Linked DNA regions of Homo sapiens: all the other regions are linked to region 2. The links come from fine-mapping of genetic effects on gene expression. A gene starts in region 2. Each other region holds a variant in brackets. All regions are shown on one strand. Distances are between the middles of the regions. Region 1 holds the start of LOC158435 (a long non-coding RNA gene). Region 2 holds the start of LINC00092 (long intergenic non-protein coding RNA 92). Region 3 has its middle 87 kb from the start of HSD17B3-AS1.

Region 1 (8,179 bases), 49 kb before region 2:
GATAGAGGGAAGGAGAGAGGAGGGAGGGTACTGCTTGGTCAGGACAGTCTAGGTAATGCTTTAGTAACAGATAAATCCTGCACATCTGTGGTTAAACAGCCAAGGTTTGCTTTTTGCTCCCTTGCACGTCAGCCTCCCAGTTACTCAGAGGCCCAGCTGAGGGCATGCCAACTTGAGATATGTTATCACCATTGAAAAAGCAGGACAAGAACTGGCAGTTCTGGTTTTCAAAGCACGCACTGGTCCTCAAAGCTTCCTCCAGGAAATGGTGCACGTCTTTCCCACTCACATTTCACTGCAAGAACAAATCACATGTGCGATGATTTCAAAGGCGTGGAGAAGGTCAAGCCTATCAAGTTCTGGAAGATATGGGAAAAGAAACTTTGTCAACAGCACCACGGCTGACACAGGGAAGAATGGCGAATGCATAGCCGCAGAGGAGCTGCTGTGGCGACCTGGTGCTTGTAGAGAGCTCGCCCTAAAAAGGATGCTCTGCCCTCATGACCCTGGGACAGTTTCTAGCCCTCTCGTCTCAATAAGATATATTTCAAATTCTCAAGCTTAACACTCTACAGTTTTCAACGTAAAATTAATCTTCATTGCACAAATGTTAAAATCTGCCTAAAGAAGCTGTCCTCGGTGAAGGAGGCCTGTATTGTGTTCTGGGGCGAGTCATCTGTGCTGAATGAAGGGCTGTGTGACAACAGAATATTCTTCAGGAGGTAGAGGCGTCAGATTGAGAGGCTGCCACAGTTTAGTGAAGACTTGCCACGGGGACCCCTAAAGAGAGGCACCGTTGCTTTGCGTTCTGTGGGGGCAGTCCCACAGTCAGGGCGCGGCAGAGCTGTGGGGGCCAGCAGCCCCCAGCATGGGCAGAGAGAGTGCCCAGGGAGTGGGCTGGGGGCTGATCAGATGTCTGCCTCTCTCAGGCTCTCTGTTTTGGTGGTAAGGCAATTGGGACAGTGATCTGTCCCCTGTCTGATAATCTGCACCAAAATTTAGGAAGTAACACGTCCTTCAGGGATTAAAATATAAGATTGAAACACAGTGGTGTGGAGCAGTCATATGCAATGCGTGCTTGAAGGAGACGGGTGACCCTCAAGCCACCAAGGCCTGTATGTCCCTTAGTCATCTATCAAAAGCTTACTGGGCACCTCCTATGGACCAAGGATGTTGTGGACACTTGAGGTGTAGTGATGGGCAAGATAGACATGCTGGATGCTCTGATGTGCCCCCCAGGTCACCCTGAAGGAAGGACACTGCTGAGGACGTTGCTAGCAGGGAGTCCTCAGCTGTCAGCCTTTTTGCGGACTGCCTGAGCCACAGGGAGCTGCTTCCCTCAAGATCACAGCGCATTTAGAGAGCAGCCCAGCACCAGTGAAGGACCAATGAGGAGCACAAAGCCCAGCGGTGTGTGTGCTGACCTGGGACAAGGCCGCAGGGATAGCCCACCCTCAGAACTCCCTGCAGGGATAGCCCACCCTCAGAACTCCCTGCAGGGATAGCCCACCTTCAGAACTCTCTGCAGGGCTGGCTGATGTTTCTGGTGAGCTGGCTGTGATGTGCTTTCCCTCCTGCCCAGTCCTATTCCCTTCCCTTCTCTTCCCTTCCCAAGATGGGGTTCCTGAGAGTACACCCTGGTAAATCTCCATCCTTGTCTCCGACAGTCTGCTTCCTTGGGAGTCCAACCTGTCCCAGACACAGCCTGTCCTCATGGAGCCTACACACTAACGAGGAAGGCAAGTATCAAACAAGTAAAGAAACAAGCAAATGTCAGATGGCCATAAGTGTTATCAGGAAAATAAAACGGTGTAACAGGATGGTTACAGAAAAGGCAACACTGGGTGGAGCCGTCTGGGAGGGTTTGGTGGAGACATGATATTGAGCAGAAACCCGATTAATGGAAATCTAGAGGACAACATTCCAGAGAGAAGAACAAACATAAGGGCCCCAAGACTGAAAGAGGTCTGATACATGTGAGAAAGGAAGAGAAGTGCCTTATGACTAGGGTGATGTGCACAAGGGGAGGTCACCATGGGCTTAGTGAGGTCGGTGGGGGCAGGCCATTTTGGATTTTATTTAAGGGCAATGGGAGAAAGGGGGATCCCAGTCCATACAGGGGCTTTCTGTGATTTAGAAAAAGGAATCCCTCTCTTAAGTAAAAAAAATAATCACATGAATGACTAGTTCAGTGCATGACTTGAACAACCATTCACAGTGTCCCTGCAGGGGATAGTGGGAACTGCAAAAGGCTGAGCACTCAGCAGAGAATGTAAGCAGGAGAGGGGAGGGGAGTGAGGAGATAGAAGAGTGTCAGCTCTGGGGTTCAATCAGCAGTGTCCAGCCTAGTTTGCCGAAACAATCATTCCATAATCCAAACTGCTGTTTAAATCGATGGCCAGACACATGCATCCTATTAGGAATTAGGCAAAGCTGCTGCTGGGAGGAGGCACTCCTTGACTCAGCCTGGCTTTCTCAGCCTGGTCACTGGTCACCCCTCAGCATGGGGTGCACATGCATCAACAGTGTGCCTCTGCCTCCCACAGACCCTCCAACCTGTACATGCCCCAAGTTGTCTAGCACAGCTGAGAGGCCTGTGTTTCTTTGGATGGTTAGCTCCATATCTCTAAATAATAAGCTCCATGTCTTATATTAGATAGAAATTATGTTCAGCTGCCAGCACAGAGAGCCAGCAAAAGTTGCTTAAACAAGATAAAGATTTGTTTCTCTCTCACATAAGAGAATCCATACGTGAGGAGCAGAAAGATGGAAGGAAATTGGACCCAAATGATTATGGATCCGCCGTAGCAACCCTGAAGTCCCCACATCTGGCAAGAAAGAGGCAGGAGAAAGGAAAAGGGGGATATCTCAAGTGTTTTTTGACCTTTTAGGGAGCATGTTCATAAGTCCTACCAACAACTTTGGTGCAGACTTTGTTGGCCCTAACTTAGTTACCTATGTCCTTGCCACCTCTGTCCTGATACAGATATATCACTATTGTCGTTAAATTAAGAATCAAAATTTCTATATATATATGTATTTTTGAGATGGAGTCCCACTCTGTCATGATCTCAGCTCACCGCAACCTCCACCTCCTGGGTTCAAGTGATTCTCCTGCCTCAGCCTCCCAAGTAGCTGGGATTACAGGCACCTGCCACTGCATGCAGCTAATTTTTTGTATTTTTAGTAGAGATACGGTTTCACCATGTTGGCCAGGTTGGTCTTGAACTCCTGACCTCGTGATTTGCCTGCCTTGGCCTCCCAAAGCTGGGATTACAGGCATGAGCCACCGTGCCTGGCCCTCAAAATTTCTATTTTTATGACTATGTGGGTATTGTTTACGCTAGCTCCATGAAATAAATCATTTCTTTTCTTATAAAGTTTGTTTTTCCTAGAGTTGTGAATAGGCTTTGTTTTTGTACTATCTGCCATCATCACAGCTTCAGCCTCTCTGCCCTCCTGTCTCTGCAGTCTCCATCATATCAGGTATTCTCCCTTTCTTCCTCACAAAGGCCTCCTCGCCTATGGCTGATATCAGGGTCCGCAGCACAGCTGTTATTCCTGGACTTGCTGTTACCACTCTCATGGGTTGTAGGCACTATTTCCTGGGTTCCATGTCTTTTTCCTTCATTTACTGGAATTTCTTTTTGCTGGAACTTTCCTGCTTGATTACTCCTAGAACAACAACCCAAGAGGTGCTGGTCCAGGCTCCAGACATACAGAGAAGAATGAAGCATAATCCCTGCCCTGAAGGGTTTCACAGCCTGTTGATCAGGAAGACATGTGGAAAGATACATAATAACACGTAAGTGCGCTTACATGCTCTGTGAGCAGGACAA[G/T]GACATCTATTCGTGGGATCAGGCAAGGCTTCAGAGTAGAGGTGACACCAGGTTTTGAAAGAAGACTGAGTATTTGTTCAGTGGAGAAGTAGAGGAAGGCAATTCCAGGGAGAGGTCACCACATGGGCAAATGCACCAAGGCATGGCAGACAGAGCCAGCTAGCAGAATGGTGAGTTCAGTGATGTGGAAGCATAGAATACGTCGCGTAGGTCAGGGCTCAAGCATACAGAACCGAGCATGCTTCCTAAGTTGCACACAACCCATTTGTAAACTGCTGAGCATGTCTTATTTGCAAGTTGTGGATGACATAAGCAGATCTGTAGAGGCGGACAGGGCATTTAAAAACCCATACATTTCTGCCCAGAAAATCAGGTCTCTTCAATTCTGATTGCCAGCCTTTCAGTCCCAATTCAGACAGGAAGCTGAAGGGTTTCCATCAGACCTACACAGCACTCAACAAGAAATCGCTTGAGTTTTCTCAAGAGATAAAGACTTTTTATTACAATGTAACGAAGTATAATTGGCTTAGTTAACCTAGTATGCAAAATCTTGGGTGTTCTCGTAGTGCTGTGAAATGTTATGATTCAAAAGAATTTCGGCTCTCTCTAGCACTGCAAACCTCCCCTGCCTTAAAGTGCTAAAATGTTTCTTACTTAGACTCACACTTTGCTTTTCCTTCAAAACACAGAGCTTGCCCAAGTCATGGAGGGTAAAGACTTCCCTACCCCTTTCCCACCTTTTTGGATTATTGGTTTTTTTCTATATTCGTCACATTTCTAAGTGCTTCAAAGGGGACTGGGGCAGACATAACCTCACCTCATAGACTCCTTCTGGCTCCACATCACAAGTCTCCTGGGTATTTTTACATTATTATTGGTTGAAACATATTTAAAATATCTTTCCTCCATAAATGTGTGTGTGTGTACAGCTTCCCTGTCTCCCTGAAATGCCCATTTATAGGTAGGAAGTAGCCAGTTGGACAACTCTTTTATGGAGAGGCTCATACCTCAGAAAAACTACTGTCACACCCCTTCATATCAGAACCCAGTAAAAGGTTCTTTATTCTCACTGTCTTTTCAAATTGTTTTTGCCATTATAGATCAAGGTGTTTCAGTGATTTTGTCAGGATAGCTCTTTAGAAAAAAAGGAATCAGGGAGGAAACAGCCAGTTAAATGGGTTGAAGGAACCGTGGGAAGGTGTGTATGTGAGTGGGGAGGGGAGAGGGGGCTTAACACTAATAATATTTTGAAATGTACCTCTAAACTTGAAACCTAGTTGATAAATGTTGTTATGGAAATTCAAAAGTATTGGGTTTCATTTATTTGTTTCTAGCAAATATCGCAGGAGCACTGGTCAGATGCTGGGTGGTTGCCAGACAAGCGAGCCAGAGGAACACGAAGGCCCTGCCATCGAGGAGCGTGCCAGATCTCAGGGCCCCTAGACCAGGAGTCCTTCAGGGGGGCCTGCCACACTCCTCATGTTTCAAAATGAATTTCCATGCTTAACATTACACCGTCTGTCAAGTTCAAAGAGGCTTCGTGTTTTGTTTGAAACCGGGTCTCGTTGTGTCGCCCAGGTTGGAGTGCAGTGGCACGACCTCAGCTCATTGCAGCCTTGACCTCCTGGGCTCAAGGGATCCTCCCACCTCAGCCCCCCAAGTAGCTGGGACTACAGGTATGTCCCACCACACCTGGCTAATTTTTGTATTTTTTGTAGAGATGGGGTTTTGCCATGTTGCCCAGGCAGATTGGTCTTGCACTCCTGAGCTCAAGCAATCCTCCTGCCTCAGCCTCCCAAAGTGTTGTGATTACAGGTGTGAGCCACTGTGCCTGGCTGCAGAAGATTTTTTTTGATTAAGCCCATCTCACTATGATTTTTCTTTCTATAAAACCCCCAGCATTCCCACTAAAGACCCTTGTTGCTTCTGGAAAGGAGTATTAAAGTATCAGTCTTCCTTTCCAAAATTCGAACCCAAGCCCATGTCCTTCTGGAATCATTTCTAGATGTGTGTGTGTACAGATATACATATATATATATATATATATATATGTATATAAGTATTTACATATTGTGTGTATATATTGAAATTTATATATTTACTCACATTCATGCATGTATACATATATATTGTACACACATATGTGTATCTATGTATATGTATTTAAATTTGTTTGTGCCTCATTTTTTCTTCGTACTAGAAAAATGCAATATTGACAAAATCAAACATAAATTGGTTTGTGGTTCTAGATGTCACAGCAGTGATTGCAGGCATTTCGTAATGGTCACTGGGTCATCTCTCTAAGCCTGCCACCGTTTGGAAGTGAGTAATATTATACAGTTCCAGTTACAAAGCCACCGCACTTGACTAAATCCTCATGTGGCAGAGAGAAGCCCTCTGCCAGGGGGAGAAGCCCAGTCCCGTGATCAAATCCCTACTGGGCTGATCAGCTATTGGCAAGTTCCTGGGCATGCTGGCTGGGGTGCTGGGGGTGTCCTCCAGGACAAGTTCTCAACTTCAGCGGCACATCGGAGTCACGGAGAGCTTCCAAAAACCCTCCTGTTGGGGTCCTTCCTTTATGGAGTCCCCTCTGATGGGCATGGGTGGAGCCTGGCTCAGGGATTTTGAAATGTGACGCCTATGTTGAGCCCAAATCGGGAACCCTGGCAGCAGGGGTCATTGGTATTTGAGGACACAAAGTAAGAAGGCAGCCTGTCTTTTCTTTTCCCAGAGGTGGAAGGTGGTGGGAAGGAGCAGGAGGGGCATGTGCGGTGCCCCTGGAGGCCACCTGCCTGGGCTTGCTTGGGGCCAGCAGCCTTGGAGGCTGTGTGGAGGCCGCTGCCGCACATCTGGCCCTCAGCACTGCACAGACTGTGGAAACCCTGTAAGATAAGCTCCCAGGAATGAAAAGAAGGCGGTCTAAACTTTCTGGGTCCCAGAGCCAAAGCAGGAGGTCCCAAAACCGCAGGGTGGGGGCGGGATCATTTGCGGACACCAAAAGCCAAAGGCCAAGAGGACTCTGTTTTAGCAGATTAATTTATAAGAAAAATATCAGAAGCAAAGGCACACATGGGAATATTGTTATTGGAAAGAACATTTTGCAAAGGAATTTTTATAAATGGAAACTGCTTCAAGTTCAAGCCATATTTAAAAACACAACCACATGGGTGGCAGGAAGGAGGGCACCGGCTGTGTTCAAATATTTTCCTAAAGGGACACCCAGCCCCCCTCAGCTGTCCCCAAAGGGGGCATGGGGGTCTGTGGGTCCTGCTTACTTTGGGAGCCCTGGACTTGGCCCTCGGAGGCCTTGGTGGCCCGGTGAGGATAGTAAAACATGGGAGGTGTTCTGGGAGCGCCTTCTCCAGAGATAAAGGCTGTTCTTCACCAAGATGATTCCAGGAAAGTTCATTTTGGAAATGGAGAAGAGAAATGGAGACAAAGTATGTACGAGTCGCACCTGAGTGCAGAGTTAGGTCTATGGCATTTGCCCAAAGAATCACTCAGGAAATCTTCCTTCCCTTCCTTTGACCCACAGCAGAATAAAGGAGATTAATTTTGGGTGGACGGTTGGTGGCAGAAGTTGAGGGAATTTTGGAAAATTGAAGAAAATAACTATTTGAATAGACCAGAAGTGAAGGTTTCCTGTGGTGTGCAGCCCAAAATCTAGTTCAGGCCATCTCCTGTGACATTTTTTTAAATTGCTGTGTTTGACACAACCTTAGGCCTGAGAAAACTTTACTTTCCTAGAAAAGCACATTTACATGTGAAACCCGGCATATGCCCCAGCACTCAATTGCAGGGAGTCGGCCCCCATTCCTCATGGCATCTGCAGAGCAGTGGCTGGCATGGGGCAGTCCCCCCAAGTGCATCCGTGCATAAAAGAGGTCCGGGAACACCTCCCCTGTGAAAGCCCGGGGAGCAGTTCTGAGGTAGACAAAAGACCCTTAATATACATTTTCCCCCAAATTAATCATTTCGGTTCCAGGAAACAAGAAAAGACTTTTCTGGACTTCTATATATTGCATCATAGCATATCAATGTAATCAGTAGAATCAACTCTGTTCCTCTTATTACTAACAATTAACACATTGTGAGCACACGCTATGGACTCAAGCATTCTTTGAGAAGACTTCATTCGCATATTATTTTAAGTCTGTTTTCTATTGCTTGTAGTAGAATACCTGAAACTGGGTAATTTATAAAGAAAAGGAATTTACTTCTTACATTTCTGGAGGCTGGGAAGTCCAAGTCTAGGGGGTGCATCTGGTGAGGGCCCTCTTGCTGGCAGGGACTCTGCAGGGCCCCAGGGTGGTGCAAGGCATCCCATGATGAGGGGGCTG
Region 2 (8,157 bases):
GGGTGTGGGTGGTGTCCCTTGAGCTTCGACACCACGCCACACCTGAAACCAGCCTGACATCCATGATTTTGCTTTTTTGCTTAAACCAGTCTGCGTCATTTTCAACAAAAGAGTTCTACTAGATATGACAAATTTCTCTAGAAGACCTAAGAAGTGAAAGACTTGAAGCTATTCCAGTGGTTCAGGAACTAGGACACTGGTAGGAAACTGGAAAGAAGGCATCAGAGTTAAGGAAATATTTATGAGGTCAACTCTGGAAGTCTTGGTTACTGAGTGAATACAGTGGCTGAGAGGAATGGAAGCATCCAACCAAATAAAAAAAGATGGTGCTGAGATTTGGGTTATGAGGTCAATGACTGAAGCAATGCGATTAACTGAGTTAGGAGTCTCAAATATAGGATGAGTGCAGAGTTGAGGATGAAGAATTCTGCTTTGGACACAATGAGTGTGAGGTGCCCAAGGATAACCCAACGGGAAGCAGTCACACCAAAGCAACAGGGTGTGCACCTGAAACTCAGAAGGGTGATTGGGCTATGGTGAAGATTCCTGATCACCCATAAATGAATTCATTAAAAGCATGAGAGTGAGTGGAGGGGCCCCTAGAATATGGTGGGTGCATGAGACTAACCCTAGATTGGGGATAGCTCCCTGGGAAATCCAAGGGACAAGGTGAGGAGGAGGAGGCGGAGCCCACCAAGGAAACTAGAAAGAGACCGCTGGAGAGGTCCGAGGACAGCAAGGAGCACAGCCTTCAAGTCTGGGAGCCAACTATCCAAGAAGAGAGTGGTTTGCTATGGATGCCGTGGGCCACCACGTCCCATCTAGGAAAGCAAGTTGAGGTCTCTCTTGAATACATTGGGATTGATTACCCAGACTTTAAAGAATCTATGTCCCCTACTTCCCTTCATTCACTCTGCTCTTTACCTTCTCCTCTTCCCTGGTCACCAGCACCTCTGCTAAAGGGTGGAGAAAGGAACTTCTGATCAGTTACAGAAAAGCTTTGGGGTTACGTGGTGCAAGCTGCTCTGCCTCTGTTTGTGAAGAAATTAGACTATGGCCAGCCATGTGAGTGGCATCACTTTGGTTTCTGGAGCAATAGTTAGTAGCAACTTTTAGAGGTGGTCATTTCGGTTCCCTTCTGGAAAGTGATTCGTGTTTAAGAAAAATAGATGCAACGTTGCTAAGTACACCTAACATTTAAACAGTCTCCAGCAGATAAATGCTGATACTGACACTTCTCACCAGAAAAAGAGAAATACCCATCATGAGGAAGAGAAATGACTTTTGTTCAGTTATGCTCCCGGGTCCCCTTTCACTGGAGGGATATCTCAGCTTTCTGAGCCCCTGGTTACTGCAATCCTCGGTTCCAGAACCCAGCAATTCCTATCATCACAATTGTTTCAAGTCTTATCCAAGCCCTGTATATTTCAGATCATCCTTAATTTCTTGTTCTGTACCCAGAGGAGATCAGGAAAACCTTTAAGTCTCTATGTGAGGCAAATACATCCTCCTCACTGCCCCAGCCCCATGTGATTGATGAAGCAACTGAGGAAGAGAAGTAGGGTGCTTCTGGCACTGGAGGAGCGCAGTGCTGAGAAACTCCGGGCTCCATTCGGAAATAGCACTGATTTCTTAGTGTACTTTTTTTTGGTGTTAATATAGAAAACATCAAAAACACAGTTAAAAGAATGAAGCATGTCTACATACGTGTGGCCAGAAAGACTGACCAGAAGCTGGTAGCAGTGAGGGATGACAGTGCTTGCCCCTGGGTTGAATAGTGGAAGAGTTAGGGGGGAAACAGTCTGCTCTTTGAGACCCTTTCAATTTCATGTGATGGATTTACAGAGACAGATGAATTAAACATTATATAAAAAAGGAATAAAACCACTGGTAGGATCTGTATTCCAGGAAGAAAAAAGCATATTACATAATAGGTCAATGCACAGAAATAAAAAAAGGAATTTAACTAGAGCCTATGCTAATCATAAATCCCTTCCCTGTTCCAGAGTCCTGTTGTCTCTGGGGTCTTGGCCTGTCTTATCTAGGCCATGGAGTGGTGGGGGTGGGATGCTGCTAGTTCCTAGGCAGGAAATAGTGGCCAGTTACCCTTGTGGTGTCATTTCTGGGTCCTGGAAAGGAGACCACTGCTGACCCCTGACTCACCAACCAACAATTATTGATGGAAATCCCACCGGCCTCCCCGGACAAAGGCAGCCCAGACCTGGACTCATTCACATGTAAAGGAAGTGGCCAGAAGTGGCTGCTGTTGGCAGGGGTGAGGGACGGGAGAGCGCGCTAAGTGGCCTGTGTCTGTGGGGGAGGGAGAGGGTGGAGCAGCACAAGCCGGCCTGAGGTTAGGAGCCTGCGGTATCTCCAGGAAAGCAGAGGCGGCTGTGGGGGGCGCCGGGGCTGAAGAGCCAAGTGTGGAGACTGCTCCATCTTGCCCATCTCCAGAAACTCAGACCACCCATCCATTAAAGGCAGGTGGATGAGCAAGGGGGCCTCGCAGGCATTCCAGATCACACTGAACCTGTGCCCCACTGCCTGACCCATTCAGCATCCCTATTAACAGACACTCGCTGCCGTCTGGCCCGGACCCGGCTGGCGCTGCGGGTCCTTCCACCCCAGTTAGGAAGGGTCATGGCTCCCGCGGAAGCCCCTGCCAGGGTGAATAAACTCGGCGTGGGGCTGACGGGCTCTGAATTACTCCGTTGCTTACAAGCCGAGTGCCCCTCTGTGCCTCAGTTTCTCCCTCTATAAAACAATACGAATACCGGCCCAGAAGCGTTGTTGGGCAGATTAAACGAGAAAATCCACTGGAAGTGTTTAACAAACGACACACAATACGGGCTTCATACCTGCCAGCCGATGTCCCCTGCAGCCTTTATTCCCTACCCAATTCCCCTTAGCCTGCTATGTGGAGATACAGGAGGCTTGCACCCGCCGCGGTCCCGGTGTATTTTAACGGGCTCCCGGGGAAGCGGTGTGGAAAATGGATTAGGGAGGGAGGAGGCCAGAGCCTCGGAACCCGGGGAGAGGTCTGCAGGCATCCAGTTGGGAGCTGGAAGGGCGGGACAGGGCCCTTGGCAGGGGGATCCAGGAAATATTTTGGAGAAATTCTCTCTAGGACTTGGTAACAGGTTGAGAGCGGCCACTTGGCCGGGGGCGCCGGCTTCGGAGGCGGGAGGGAGGTGGAGGAAGGGAAGGCAGCTGCAGGGCCGACCTGCGGGGTGGGCGTGAGGCCGGGGGATTGGGGCCGCAGGGGTTCGGCCTGGAGGAGCGGCGTGGGGGCGCCGGGGCCCTGATTCCATCCTGGGCGGGTCGGCCCCGCAGCCGCTGCGCTCGGAACCCCCTAGGCGCCCCGCAGTACCCGGCGTCCTTCCTGCCTCCTCCTCGCCCCTGTCCTCCGTCCGAGCCCCAGTCCCGCCGACCCTGCCGGCGCCTCCGCCCTCCCGCCCTCCCGCCCTCGGTTTCCCACGACCTCGGCGCGACGCGCGCGGGATCCAGTGGAGACTGCTTTCCCATAGGCCGCCATCCAGGGCGGGGAAGGGAGCGGACCCTCCCGGCTCCAGGTGCCTGGGCCCCCGGCGGCCTGCGGAGGCCTCGCCCCACGCCACCCGCCCACTGGCCTCGTCTTCGCGCGGGGGTGAGAGCAAAGGAGGCACTCGGCCCATCGCCAGCCCGGGTCCCCTTCCTGCCCGTCGCTATCCGAGAATTTGCCCCGTGTCCCCCAGGCCGCGGGGGTCCGGAGAACCGAGGGGCGGACCCCGCAGAGGGCTGCGCCGCCCTCCCTTCTCTCCCCGCGGGAAGCAGCCCCCAGGACCGCCCCTCGCTCCCTGCCCGGGAGGGACTGGGCTTCCCCGAGGTGTGCGGCTCCTGGAGAACTCGCTTTCCCGTTTCCAGCCGGCCAAGCCATCAGTTAATCGCTTGCTTTCTCTTTTCTTTACAGAGAAAAGCAGCCTGATTCGGAGGAACGGGTTGCTTGGGGCGGCTCCCAGCTCGAGTTGTGGGCCCCGCCGCGGGTGCCCTTCGGAAACGCGCTGACACCAGGCGAAGCCGCCTCTGCCCGGACGCAGCCCGACACTTGGCCCGCGGGGTTCCCCGGGACGCCTGAGAGTAATGGGCGCGAGGGGGAAAGCCGAACGGCCTCCCTGTGCCCGGCGCAGGCGGTGCCCCCTAGCTGGGTTCGCCGCGGCGGCGCTGCGAGCCCCCGACACTGAGGACTTTTGGTCCAACAGTCCGACGGGGCCCGGTGCGCCGTTCCCTCCGCCCTCTCCCCGCTCCCCGGCCCGCGCGTCTTGGAGGGTGGGTGAATTGTCGGAAGCACTCTACGCCTGGCCAACCCAAACCAGGAACCTCCGCACCAAACAGCCCACGTTGCTGCTGCTCTGGGGTTTTAACGGCCAAGGGAGACTGGAGAAGGGGTGTTCTGCCTTCCCATTCTCTTAGGCCCGTCCACTCCCCATCCCCACAGTTTGGAAGTGGCCTTTTCTGAGGACTCCAGCGCAAAGCATGTTTCTCCTTTTGAGCTGCGGAAGCCTTGCTTGTTCCCGCCATTGGGAGGGCATTCCATCATCTGCAGCTGCCTTCCTCGGTGGGCCTTGTCCCTTAGCGTCCACCTAGGGGACATTCTAAGCTTCTTGAGACCTGCTTGTCCACCCCAACATGTCTCAGCATATGGCTGTGCCCTAAGGGGTCTTTGAGGGCATTTTAGGAGGTGAGCGGCGCCCCTACCTGGGCTCCGCGGGGCCGATTCGGTTTGCCCTTTGCTGGCATGTCAGTGAATTAACTGCTGTCCTTGGGATGACCTGCCCTATGATTTGGCCTCTGGAGCATCCCGGGTGTGTATTTCAGAACTCCTCCCATCTTATCCACCTGCTGAAGGCCTGGCCCCCTGATATGGTTTGGCTCTGTTTCCCCACCCAAATCTCACCTTGAATTTTAATAATCCCCACGTGTCATGGGCGGGACCAGGTGGAGGTAATTGAATCATGGAGGTGGTTTCCTGAACGCTGCTCTCGTGACAGTGAGTTCACAAGATTTTTTTTTTTAACGGAGTATCACTCTGTCACTCAGGCTGGAGTGCAGTGGCGCGATCTTGGTTCACTGCAACCTCTGCCTCCCGGGTTCAAGAGATTCTCCTGCCTCAGCCTCCCGAGTAGCTGGGATTACAGGTGCGCGCCATCACGCCCGGCTAATGTGTATTTTTAGTAGAGAAAGGGTTTCACCATGTTGGTTAGGCTGGTCTGGAACTCCTGACCTTGTGATCTGCCTGCCTCGGCCTCCCAAAGTGCTGGGATTACACGCGTGAGCCACTGTGCCCAGCCGATCTGATGCTTTTATAAAGGGCTTTCCCCGTCCCCCTTCCTCTCTCTCACCACCCTGTGAGAAAGGTGCCTTTCTTCCCCCTTCACGTGAACTGCCTCCATGATTGTAAGCTTCCTGAGGCCTCCCCAGCTATAAGGAACTGTGAGCCAATTAAACTGCTTTATAAATTAACCCAGGTATTTCTCGGGTATTTCTTCATAGCAGCGTGAGAATGGACTGATACACCCCCAATGTGGAGTAGGGGAAGCTGAGGGAGTTAGGAGGTCCCAGCAAGGTGAAGGTGTGATGGGGTCTTGGGACAGTGAGAGTGCTGCCTCAGGCAACAGTGGGCAGGTCATTGAGGCTCCATTGAGCTTGGTGAGCAGGAAGCTGAGAGAGGGAGCTGTCGATTCAGGAGTCAGGGGTGACATGGAAGGAACCTAGGGCTTTGCCAGGCACAGGTGAAGGAAGGCCACTTAGGTACTGGCAGTGGGAAGAGAGGGCAGGGAGTGGTGGACGGAGAGGAAGAGAAAGCTGAACACTGGAGCACAATGCGGGTGCTGGGAGGCAAGCAGAGGGGGCTGGGGGCTTCTCATATGGTGCATCCTGGCATTTATATTTTGAAAAATAATTGTTTTGTTCCCATTAGTGCTTTTATAATAGTTTTAGGAAAGAAGAGAAAATATGAATTAGCTATTATGAGGCTTCTTTTGAAGTTTCTTTCAGTTCAGAAACATATCCCACTTTACAAAAAAATTAAGAAAATTCAAAGTTAAAAAATGTAGGGAGGCCAATAATTTTAGTTGCCAGACATTTTAGTCTGACAAGACAACTCATTGGAGTTTCCTTAGAGACGTATTAGAAATTCAGAGCTGCACACGCATTTTTCCCCCTGCCAGATAAACTGAAACAACATAAAGTGAGTTTTAGTTATTTCTTTCAACGAGACTGCGAGGCCTATTTAGCTAACGAAAAAGATATCTGTAGAAAGAAGCATTCTTGATTCTTATCTACAAGACAGAGCAGCAAAAAACCAAGAATGTCAGATGAGTATTATCTCTGTCCATGGCAGAAAGGTATCATGTTGGTATAATTAAGATTGGTCTTAATGGAAACTTAGGCAATAAATATAAACATCATAGTTTAACCTGCAGCAAAGCAAATAAAATACATGAAATATAATAGAAAAACAATGCAGGCAAAGGCAGGCAGATTGCTTGAGTCCAGAAGTTCGAGACCAGACCTGGGCAACATGGCGAAACCCTGTCTCTAAAAAAAAAAAAAAAAATGCAAAAATTAGCCGGGCAGGGTGGTGCACATCTGTGGTCCCAGCTACTTGGGAGGCTGAGGTGGGAAGATCCCTTGATCCTGGGAGGTCGAGGCTGCAGTGAGCTATGATTGCGCCATTGCACTCCAACCTAGGTGACAGAGTGAGACTCTGTCTTACAAAAAAAGAAAAACAATGCTATGTGTGAATTTTTTTCCAATCTTTTAATAAGGAAAATGTTTTTTTCAAAATAATGGCTTATATGGAGTGTCAACATAAAAACAATATAATTTCAAATTGATAAGTAAAATATAGTCAGCAATCTCACATACATCAAAATTTGGTATATAACACACATTCTGGAGAGGTGTTGCTTTTGGTCTTACTTTTTTTCCATTTTTAAAATTGTAAAACACATACAAAATTTAGCATTTTAATGACTTTTAAGTGTACACTTCAGTGTCATTAAATTCACATTGCTGTGCAACCATCACGACCATCCATCTTCAGGCCACTTTGCATCCTGTGTAACAGAAACTCTACACCCATTAATAACTCCCCTTTCTCCCCTCCCTCCAGCGTCTAGCAACCACCATTCTACTTTGTCTCTATGAATCTGACTAATCTAGGTACTTTATATAAGTGGAATCATACAGTATTTGTCCTTCTGTGTCTGATTTATTTCACTTTGCATACCGTCCTCAAGATTCATCTATGTTGTAGCACGTGTCCGAATTTCCTTTCAAGGCTGAATAATATTCCTGTGTGTGTAATATTTTGCTTATTCATCGATAGGTACTTGGAATGCTTTCTTCGTGTTGTAGCCATTGTGAATAATGCCACTATGAACACAGATGTTCAAATATGCGTGGACATTTTTATAGGAATGTAACAACAACAAAAAGCACACAGTGGGCTCCATCATGAGCTCAGCTGCATACAGAGATGGGGGGCGCTGGAAGTCGTGGTGGGGCAACTGAAGCACCTCTCTGGAAATACTGTGTCCCAGGGGGACAGAAGGTCAGGCAGGTGGGTCCTGCCCAGGGACAAACCTGACAATCACTGGCACATCAGAATTCCTGTGAAACTGCAAAAACAAAAAGGGTGCCTGTGCTGAGCCCTAGACCCCCTGATTCAGTCTCTTGATGAGGACCCTGGACATGTGCATGCTTAAAAGCCTCTCCGGAGGTTCTGACTTGCTACCCTTGGGGCTGGGAACCACACAGCCTGGGACTTGGGAAGGAAGGGCGAATCTGTCTTTCCTCCTAGGGGCAGAGAGTAACTATCAGATGCACTGTTTTCCTAGAGAAACCCTGCAAGACCCTGAGGCAAAATAGCTCTCCTGGGGTGGCCCTTTAGCCAAGCAAAAGTGAGATGTTCTTCCCTCCTGCAACAAATACCAAGTGGAGCCAGCCGTACATGCCACAGTGTACAGGGGCTGTCACCAAGAGGAAAGTGGCTTATGAACCATCCCAGTAAGGCCTCCTAGAAGCACTGGGCAGAGGATGCTTTGCAATCTCTGGTGGAAGATGAAACCAGAAACAAGTCTGTATCCGTGATGATGGAATGAGCAGCAGGCAAGG
Region 3 (8,179 bases), 140 kb before region 2:
GGGTTCAAGGGATTCTCCTGCCTCAGCCTCCCGAGTAGCTGAGATTACAGTTGTATGCCACCAAGTCCAGCTAATTTTTGTATTTTTAGTAGAGACAGGGTTTCACCATGTTGGTCAGGCTGGTCTTGAACTCCTGACCTTGTGATTCACCCGCCTCGGCCTTCCAAAGTGTTGGAATTACAGGCGTGAGCCATTGCGCCCGGCTTTCTTTCTGGCCTGTCTTCATCTGCTTTTCCCAAGAGTCTCCTGACTGCACAGAAGAGCAAAGAGATAAGAAATGTCTCTCCCACCCTCCAAAACACATGCCATGAGCCCTTTGCCATCTTTGCTTTGTTTTAAGCTTGTTACTGTTGGTAACTATAGGGAATGGACAGGGATTCACAGAAGTGATGAGCAGGGAGAGCATTTCAAGTTCCCAGGAAATCCATAAAGACTCTGCTCCGTGTTGCTGGTCTCCGTTGGTGTGCAATAAAGACTACATTTTTATGGGCGGTGTGGGGGTGTGGGGGCATGTATCTTCTCTGACTTCCTACTTAAGTGTTTCGCTGGACTTCTAACTCTTGTCTTAAAAACAGTGCTGCCCAGTTCTGTGTAGCTGGGAACTTGGAGTCAACAATGTATGCTTTAACTCAAGAACCATGAATAAAGCGTACTTTTAAAACTCCATTAGGAACAGCAAGACGAGAAAGGAAGAAATCATCTTTCGGGGAGCAGGTTGTGTAAGGATAATGTGAGATAGAGAAAGTAGAGTGCCTCGTCTCCCGTGCCGTGTTCGCTTCTCCACACAGGATGGGCCTTAGGTCGGAGGAGTGGAACAGAAGACGTGAGAAAACCCTGAGCAGGCGAGGCCACCATGACAGAAGCCACAGCAGGCATCTTGGCTGGACCTGCAGATGAAGTTGATTTAATTATTGCTTGTAATCATGGGGTCATAGAAAACAGACAGAAAGCTAGAAAAGGGCAAATGTCACGGGGTGTGTTTGTGTGTGTGAGAAAGAGAGAGAGAGAGAGAGGGACAGAGAGAGAGAGAGAGAGAGAGAGTGAGTGAGTCGCATGTTGCTGGCTCCCTCCACGAGACTCAGCCAGTCCGGCTGATGCTCCGGCCCTGATGCTATCAGAAGCTGCCCCACTGGAGAATGGGGGTGCACCTGCTCCTGGCTTCCTTCTTCCTCCTCCAGGGTTGCCTTGAGCTAAGCATGTCTGAATCACAACAGAGCATCGGAAGACAATTGAGCATCATAGCTCTTGAAGTCACATCACAAAAAGAACCATTGAAGGAACTAGTGACGCTTAGCTTTGAGAAGAGAGGACCCAGGGAGAAAGAAGCTGCCCTCTCATGCTCCTCCATGTGCCAGTCACTGGGCCATGCACTTTCTACAAATTATCTTGCTTACTTTTCCTAGCAAGCGCATAAAGGAGGGTGAGAGAGCTTCAGAACTCTCATGCTGGTCTTGGGGGTAGGAGGGAATGGTGCTGAAATCCAGCGTGTCTTGCCTTTGCCTCCGTCTGCTCATAGAGAGGAATAGTAGCCACACATAAATATTTGAAGGGCATTCACAGGGAAGGCGGTTTCACTTATCCTTGAAGCTTCAGGGAACAAAGTGAGAAACAAAGGTAGGGGTTTAGGAAGGTAGATGTGTGTTCCTTTACAGAAAATGAATGCTTCCAATAGAGCTGCTTGAAATTAGAGCTGGCCGAATGGGGGAGGAGACAGAATTGAGTTCCCTGCAATGGACTGAGTGTTTGTATCCTCCCAAAATTCATCTGTTGAAACCCTAATCCCAGTGTGATGGTATGAAAAGCTGGGGCCTTTGGGAGGTGATTAGGTCGTGAGGGTGGGGCCCTCATCCATGGGATTAGTGACCCTAGAAGAAGAGGCTAGGGAGCTCTCTGCCCTCATTCTGCCATGTGAGGATATAAGAAGACAGCCATGTGCAACCCAGAAGACAGCCCTCAGCAGAACCTGGCCACCCTAGCACTGACTTCTGGCCCAGACTGTGAAAAACAAGTGTCTGTTGTCTATGAGCCAACCAGTGTGTGGCACTTGTTACACCAAGCCAAGCTGGCGGGGATGCGCCCTGTCTTTTCAGGGGGTATTTTCCCAAGCTGCTGAGGACCAGCGCACAGAGACCAGGGAAGGTCAAGCGTTCTAGGCCCTATTGATTGATTGCCAAAGACTGCCTGCTCCAGGCTGCCCAGCCCTGAGCTTGCTGTGGTCTCTTCACCCCTGAAGAGCCACACGGCAACCCCTTGAATCCTCCTGCTCCTGAGCCCTGGCTCTGTGGCTGGGGAAGGAGTATCTTCCAGTGGTTCCAGTGATTTTGTTTCTGGTCACTGCTCCCTGTACTGGGTAGTCCCTTCCACCCCATCAGAGAGGCTGCCCCTAACCACCCACCAACCACCCCACTAAGCAGCAGCCCACTCCAGCCCCCCAGCGTCTGCACAGCATCCACCACCACCTGAAATGAAATCTTTTCCTTCCTTTCTCTGTTACTGTGTGGATCCCCACACTAGGATGTGAGCCCAGTGAGGGAGGGGCCACATGTGCTTGGCTCACTGCCCTATCCCAGGCACCTAGAACGGGGCCTGGCACACAGTTAGCTCTCGAGAAGGAGGTCGTGGCTTCACGTTGTCCTGCACTGACCTCCCAGCTGTCTGGTTGGCCCCTCCTAGATGTCTGCTAGACATGAGCCTGTCTTCCCCCACCACACCTGGACCTTTCTGCCCCTTTCTGTGTGCCTGAGGCCTGTTCCCTGGCCAGTTGTTCAAGCTGATTCTATGCTTGGCTAAACCAGCCTTTTCTCTTTTTCTTTTTTTCCTCTTCTTTTCTTTTCGATTATTTTCCCTCCCTCCCTCCCCTCCCCTCCTTCCTTCCTTCCTTCCCCTTCCTTCCTTCTTCTCTCCCTTCCCTCCCCCTCCCTTCCTCCTTCTCTCCCCCTCCCTCCCTCCCGCCCTCCTTTCTTTTTCTTTCTTTCCTTCCTTTCTTCCTTCCTTTCTTTTCCTCCCTCCCTCCCTCTCTCTCTCCTTCCTTCCTTGCTTCCTTCCTTTCCCCCTCTCTCCCTTCTTTCTTTTCTTCCTTGCTTTATTTCCCCCTCTTTCTTGCTCTCTTTTGCCTTTCATTTTTTCTCCCCCTCCCTCCCTTCCTCCCTCTCTCCCTCCCTGCCTCTCTTTAGTAAGGTCTCCCTAGTGGCCAGAGGCCCTGGAGGGTGGCCATTCCCACCTGAGAAGACTGCCTGCTTGCCCCCTCTTCCTGCTGTATCCTGCTTTCCCATTGTCTGGACTGTCTCAGCAAGCTCCTGTGCCTTCTGGGAGCCCTGAGCTCCACAGACAGAAGCCATCCAGTGGCTGGTGATGAGGAACCCACATCCAGGAGTGCTTGCCCGTCCCTCGGCAGGAGTCTGCACCACACTGCCATGAGCCCTACTGTGTTTTCCTGGGAGAGTTCTCTACCAAAAACACATGGGAAACTTTTATTTTGGAGCCCGCTGGTTGACTTATTGGCGAGAAGCACTTCACCTGCTAATGTGAACAAAAGAACGAGGACAAGGTTAAGGAGAGGCTTGATGATGTATCAAGAGATTATTGCTGGAATGATCATATTTTTGCAAAAGCAAATCAACATATTTAGCATTTAAAGCCTTGAACATGCTGTGAAAGTCAGGTTTCGTTCCCAAGGGAAGAAAAGAGCTGTTCCCTCTCTGTTCCTAGTGACGTTAGGGTGACCCCAACCTCATATAACCTCGTGGTGATGAGCTAGAGTTCAACGTGGCTTAAACCTTCAATCTGTAATACACAGTGGGCCCACAGAGTTCCCATGGCACGTGTCCTAATATCTGTGCTTGCCTCCCCAGAGTGGGTCTTGTCTGAAAAGCCACATTTATTAAAGTGATTTCTATCAACAATTTAATAATTAGAGAAGTTGTTCTAAGCTGAAGAGGAAATGGTTCACTGCAGCCAATAAATGTTTTC[G/A]CAATTTAGTCACTACATGTCTGAGCTTATTTTTTTTTCCAGAGGAAACCACAAAAAATACCTACTACAATTGTGTTGAAGGTTCTTGGGGCAGATGTTACGAGTGGTGGTAGAGCTGTGGTTGAACCACCTCCAAGACCAGTGGTAGGTCACCAGGACTTCTTGCCTTAGAGACATTTAGTTTTCTTCAAACTCGATCTTAAAACATTTTGCCAGGGTGAAATGAACTTGAATCGCTCCTGATCTATTGATTTAATTTTTTCCCCTGCTACTTGGGAGTGTGTATGTTCTGGGTTGAGGTGAGTATGTGGGGTGAGTATGTGGGGTCTATTGTAATTTATAGGTTTTCATGAAAACTAAGATACATTTCAGGAAGCCATTCCAGCATGCGATTTGCTAAAACAAAGGGGTCAACAGAGACGCATCCTCTGAGAGTGGTTGGTTAGCGACGCCATTCAGCCAACTTCAAACATTGATTGAATACCCTTTGTATACCAGAACACTGCTAAGTGTTAGACCGCTCACAAGAGGTGGATAGATTCTGGACAGAGAAAGCCAGGTGAGCTCTTTCCTGAACTAGCAAACTCTGGGAACAAGACCCCAGCTGTGGTGGTAACTAAAGACTAGGTTACCAGTTCTGGAAATTCTTTGAAATGCATCGGTGGGGATATCCCTGGCTGGTAGCATCTCCAGCTCATTGAAAAGCTGTATCTTCTCCCTCCCTTCGCTTCAACCTCAAATCTGTCAGCACTGCTCTATCTATGTATGCAATTTAAGCCCAGCACAAAGAACTCACCAGAGGGCGCGGGACCAGAATTCGGCCTGCTCTGCTCACCAGCGGTTTGCTCTGGGAGGCCTGTGCCTGTCCACAGGGGCACGTTTCTCATCCTCATGGAGGTACTGCTTGGTTTAGTGAGGGCTGGGGATTTGATCCACTGACAGTCCCTGGACAAAGAGACAAAGGAGCCAATGGCATCCCATCCATGTGTTACCTGAGGCGGAAGAAATTCTTGGGTTTTCTCAAAAGCTATATTGGGAACACACACTGTGCATACGTGTACACACACACACACCACACACACACCACACACACACACACCACACACACACCACACACATACACCACACACACCACACACATACACACACCACACACACACCAACACACCACACACACACCACATACCACACACACACCACACACATACACCACACACACCACACACATACACCACACACATACACACACCACACACACACCAACACACCACACACCACATACACACAGCACACACACACCACACACACACACCACACACCACACATACCACACACACACCACACATACCACACACACACCACATACAGCACACACCACACACACAACACACACACCACACACACCACACACCACACATAACACTACACACACCACACACACACCACATACACACCACACCACACACACCCACCGCACACCACACACACACACCACACACACACCACACCACACACACTGCGCACACACCCCCCCCCACACACACACACACACACTTTCCCCCATGACTTTTGGCTCTATTTTATTTGGAGAAGCAGCAGCATTTTGATTTTGAAGGAGACTATGTTAAAGGCCACGATGTTTCCTGTTTTCTGATAGGAATGGCAGGGATCAGCGCTGTGTGCAGGCGCTGCTGCAGTCTGCAAGCGAGCGCTACTCTCCTCGCCTTGCGGTTTCAGTACACGGGGCCACCTCCCCACTCACGCTGTCCAAGCTACTCCTTAGACAAGAGCTGCATTTATGAACAGATAGGGGTTTGAGACCATAGGGCTGAGCTCCCCATCTGGCAATTACTGATGACACCCCGGGCCGTCTCTCAGAGGTGGGCACACCTGGACCCATGAATCAAAGTCTGGACTTGCAGAAAAGTTAAAGGAAATAGCTGCTGTATTAGTGGGGCTGATCACAAGCATCTGGGGAAAGGAGAGAACAACATGGCGTTATTGAAACTTCCACCTATTTCCTTGATAAATATAAACACTGCACCAAACATTGCAAATGAAAAGAGAAACAGGGTCTTCCTATGGGACATGACCCACGCACCCAGGACAAAAGTAAGGCTGGCCGTTCTGTTTCAGCACAATAACGTGTGTTAATTCAGGATTGATGCCTGGCTGCCCCCAGTCTGGCAGTGGTGTTTGCCTCCTGCCTTTGTTAGGAGAAGCGAAATAAGCTAAGGCTCCTGGAGCCAGCCCTTTCCTGCTCCTCTGCCCCACCCCCCAGACACGCACGCACAGAGCTCTCTTAGCATCAGAGGCCCAGAGGAAGGCTAGGGTCATCAACACCTGTCATTTCCAGGGCCAAAAATGTCATCAGGCGCTGCCTAGCTGGGCTGTCAACAATGGCGTGATTTGGCCAATTCTGGAAGAGGAAATGGACTATTCATGAGCAGTGCTTTCAGTGATGGGTAGGTGCACTGTGTACGTTGGTGTGTGCATACACATCTGTGCACATGCATATGCACATACATGCACCTGCGCACCCAGCCCACACTCCCTGCCGCCTCAAAAACCTCTTGTGGGTTGCATTTTCTCCAGTAACAGAAGTGATGACTCTGATGGGAAATGCACAATTAAGCTCTAAAGTGATTTCCCTAGAAATCAGTAAAAGGGTTTACTGGAACTTAAGAAAAAAAAAAGATGAAAAGTCTGTTTTTCCTTAAGGATTTGCTCCAAAGAAAGCAGCTCTCACCATATGTTCTCCCAGAGGGAGGAAGGAGGGGACAGAATGTACAAGCTGAATGCTGACTAAATGTTGCTGGCCTGGATTCTGGGGGTGGCTAGTCACCCCATCCTGGAAAGGCTGGCAGAACCGTCAAGTTGAAGGCAGTTTAGGAAAGTCCTGGGCAGACTCGGGGCCTCATGGATGTGGAGCAGCCTGTAGCTTAATCTATGTTCAATAAATGCAATGTTTTTCTCAAGGCAGGTGAGGAGGGGCTCAGGCTGTAATAAGTGTTTTAGTATTCTGGAGCAGAGTTTTATACATTTTTAAAGGAAGTCAGCCTCAGAACGCTGATCTCAACATTGTGACTAGCCTGTTACCCTGGGACTGACCCTGAGTAGAGAGACTGAAATCACAGAATTAGGACTCAAAGTAACGATTAGAGTTCCTTGGTTCTACCCTTGTCCTCCAGGTAGTATCATCACTAGCCTGGTTTGACAGAGACCTACCTGTCCTTCTCTCAAAGTTCTCCAGAGAATAAAATTTTATAGGCTACATTGGTAATGAGTGGGAAGGTTGGAAAGTTGTGGGGGTAGGAAAAGAAACAGAATAAATAAGTCAAATATACAGTATGTTAGATGGTGAAAAGTGCTATTATGAGTAACACTAATCTATAACTTGCATTTGTTTTTATTTTGGATCAGGGTCTCACTGTGTTGCCCAGGCTGGAGCACAGTGGCACAACTATAGCTCACTCCAGCCCTGGACTCTTGGGCTCAAGGATCCTCCTGCCTCAGCCTCCAGAGTAGCTAGGACTACAGGCATGTACCACCATGCCTGGCTAATTTTTTATTCTTAAATTTTTGTAAAGATGGGGCCTCTCTATGTTCCCCAGGTTTGTCTTGAACTTCTGGGCTCTCAAGGAATCCTCCTGCCTTGCTTGGCCCCCTAAAGTGCTGTGATCTTAGGGGTGAGCCATTGAGCCTGTCCATAACTTGCACTTGAATGAGGTTTCAGAATTTTCTTTTTCTTAGCCGGGCGCGGTGGCTCAAGCCTGTAATCCCAGCACTTTGGGAGGCCGAGGCGGTCGGATCACGAGGTCAGGAGATTGAGACCATCCTGGCTAACACGGTGAAACCCCGTCACTACTAAAAATACAAAAAAAAATTAGCCAGGCACGGTGGCAGGCGCCTGTAGTCCCAGCTATTCGGGAGGCTGAGGCAGGAGAATGGCGTGAACCCGGGAGGCGGAGCTTGCAGTGAGCCGAGATCGTGCCACTGCACTCTAGCCTGGGTGACAGAGCGAGACTCCGTCTCAAAAAAAAAATTTTTTTCTTTTGCTTTTCTTTCTTTCTTTCTTTCTTTCTTTCTTTCTTTCTTTCTTTCTTTCTTTCTTTTTTTTTTTGAGACGGAGTCTCCCTCTGTCGCCAGGCTGGAGTACAGTGGCGTGATCTCGGCTCACTGCTACCTCAGACACCTGGGTTTGAGCGAT

Evidence for each region.
Region 1: its variant is fine-mapped to the expression of LINC00092 in thyroid (GTEx, PIP above 0.99).
Region 3: its variant is fine-mapped to the expression of LINC00092 in coronary artery (GTEx, PIP 0.96).

The regions. Positions count from the first base shown.
Region 1 is chr9:96,065,753-96,073,931 of GRCh38, reverse strand. It overlaps LOC158435 (a long non-coding RNA gene), which reads right to left and starts at 8,093. Exons shown (of 9, transcript NR_033838.1): 1 at 8,064-8,093. The variant G/T (reference allele first, on the strand shown) is at 3,840.
Region 2 is chr9:96,017,074-96,025,230 of GRCh38, reverse strand. It overlaps LINC00092 (long intergenic non-protein coding RNA 92), which reads left to right and starts at 3,420. Exons shown (of 2, transcript NR_024129.2): 1 at 3,420-3,646; 2 at 3,950-5,499. It overlaps ERCC6L2 (ERCC excision repair 6 like 2), which reads right to left. Exons shown (of 19, transcript NM_020207.7): 19 at 6,784-8,157. It overlaps LOC105376159 (a long non-coding RNA gene), which reads left to right. Exons shown (of 2, transcript NR_188619.1): 2 at 1-1,971. RefSeq lists enhancers at 1,998-2,498, 3,931-3,980 and a silencer at 4,191-4,240.
Region 3 is chr9:96,154,948-96,163,126 of GRCh38, reverse strand. No RefSeq gene overlaps it. Among named protein-coding and RNA genes, the nearest start is that of HSD17B3-AS1, 87 kb to the left of the region's middle. RefSeq lists a silencer at 3,197-3,409. The variant G/A (reference allele first, on the strand shown) is at 3,970.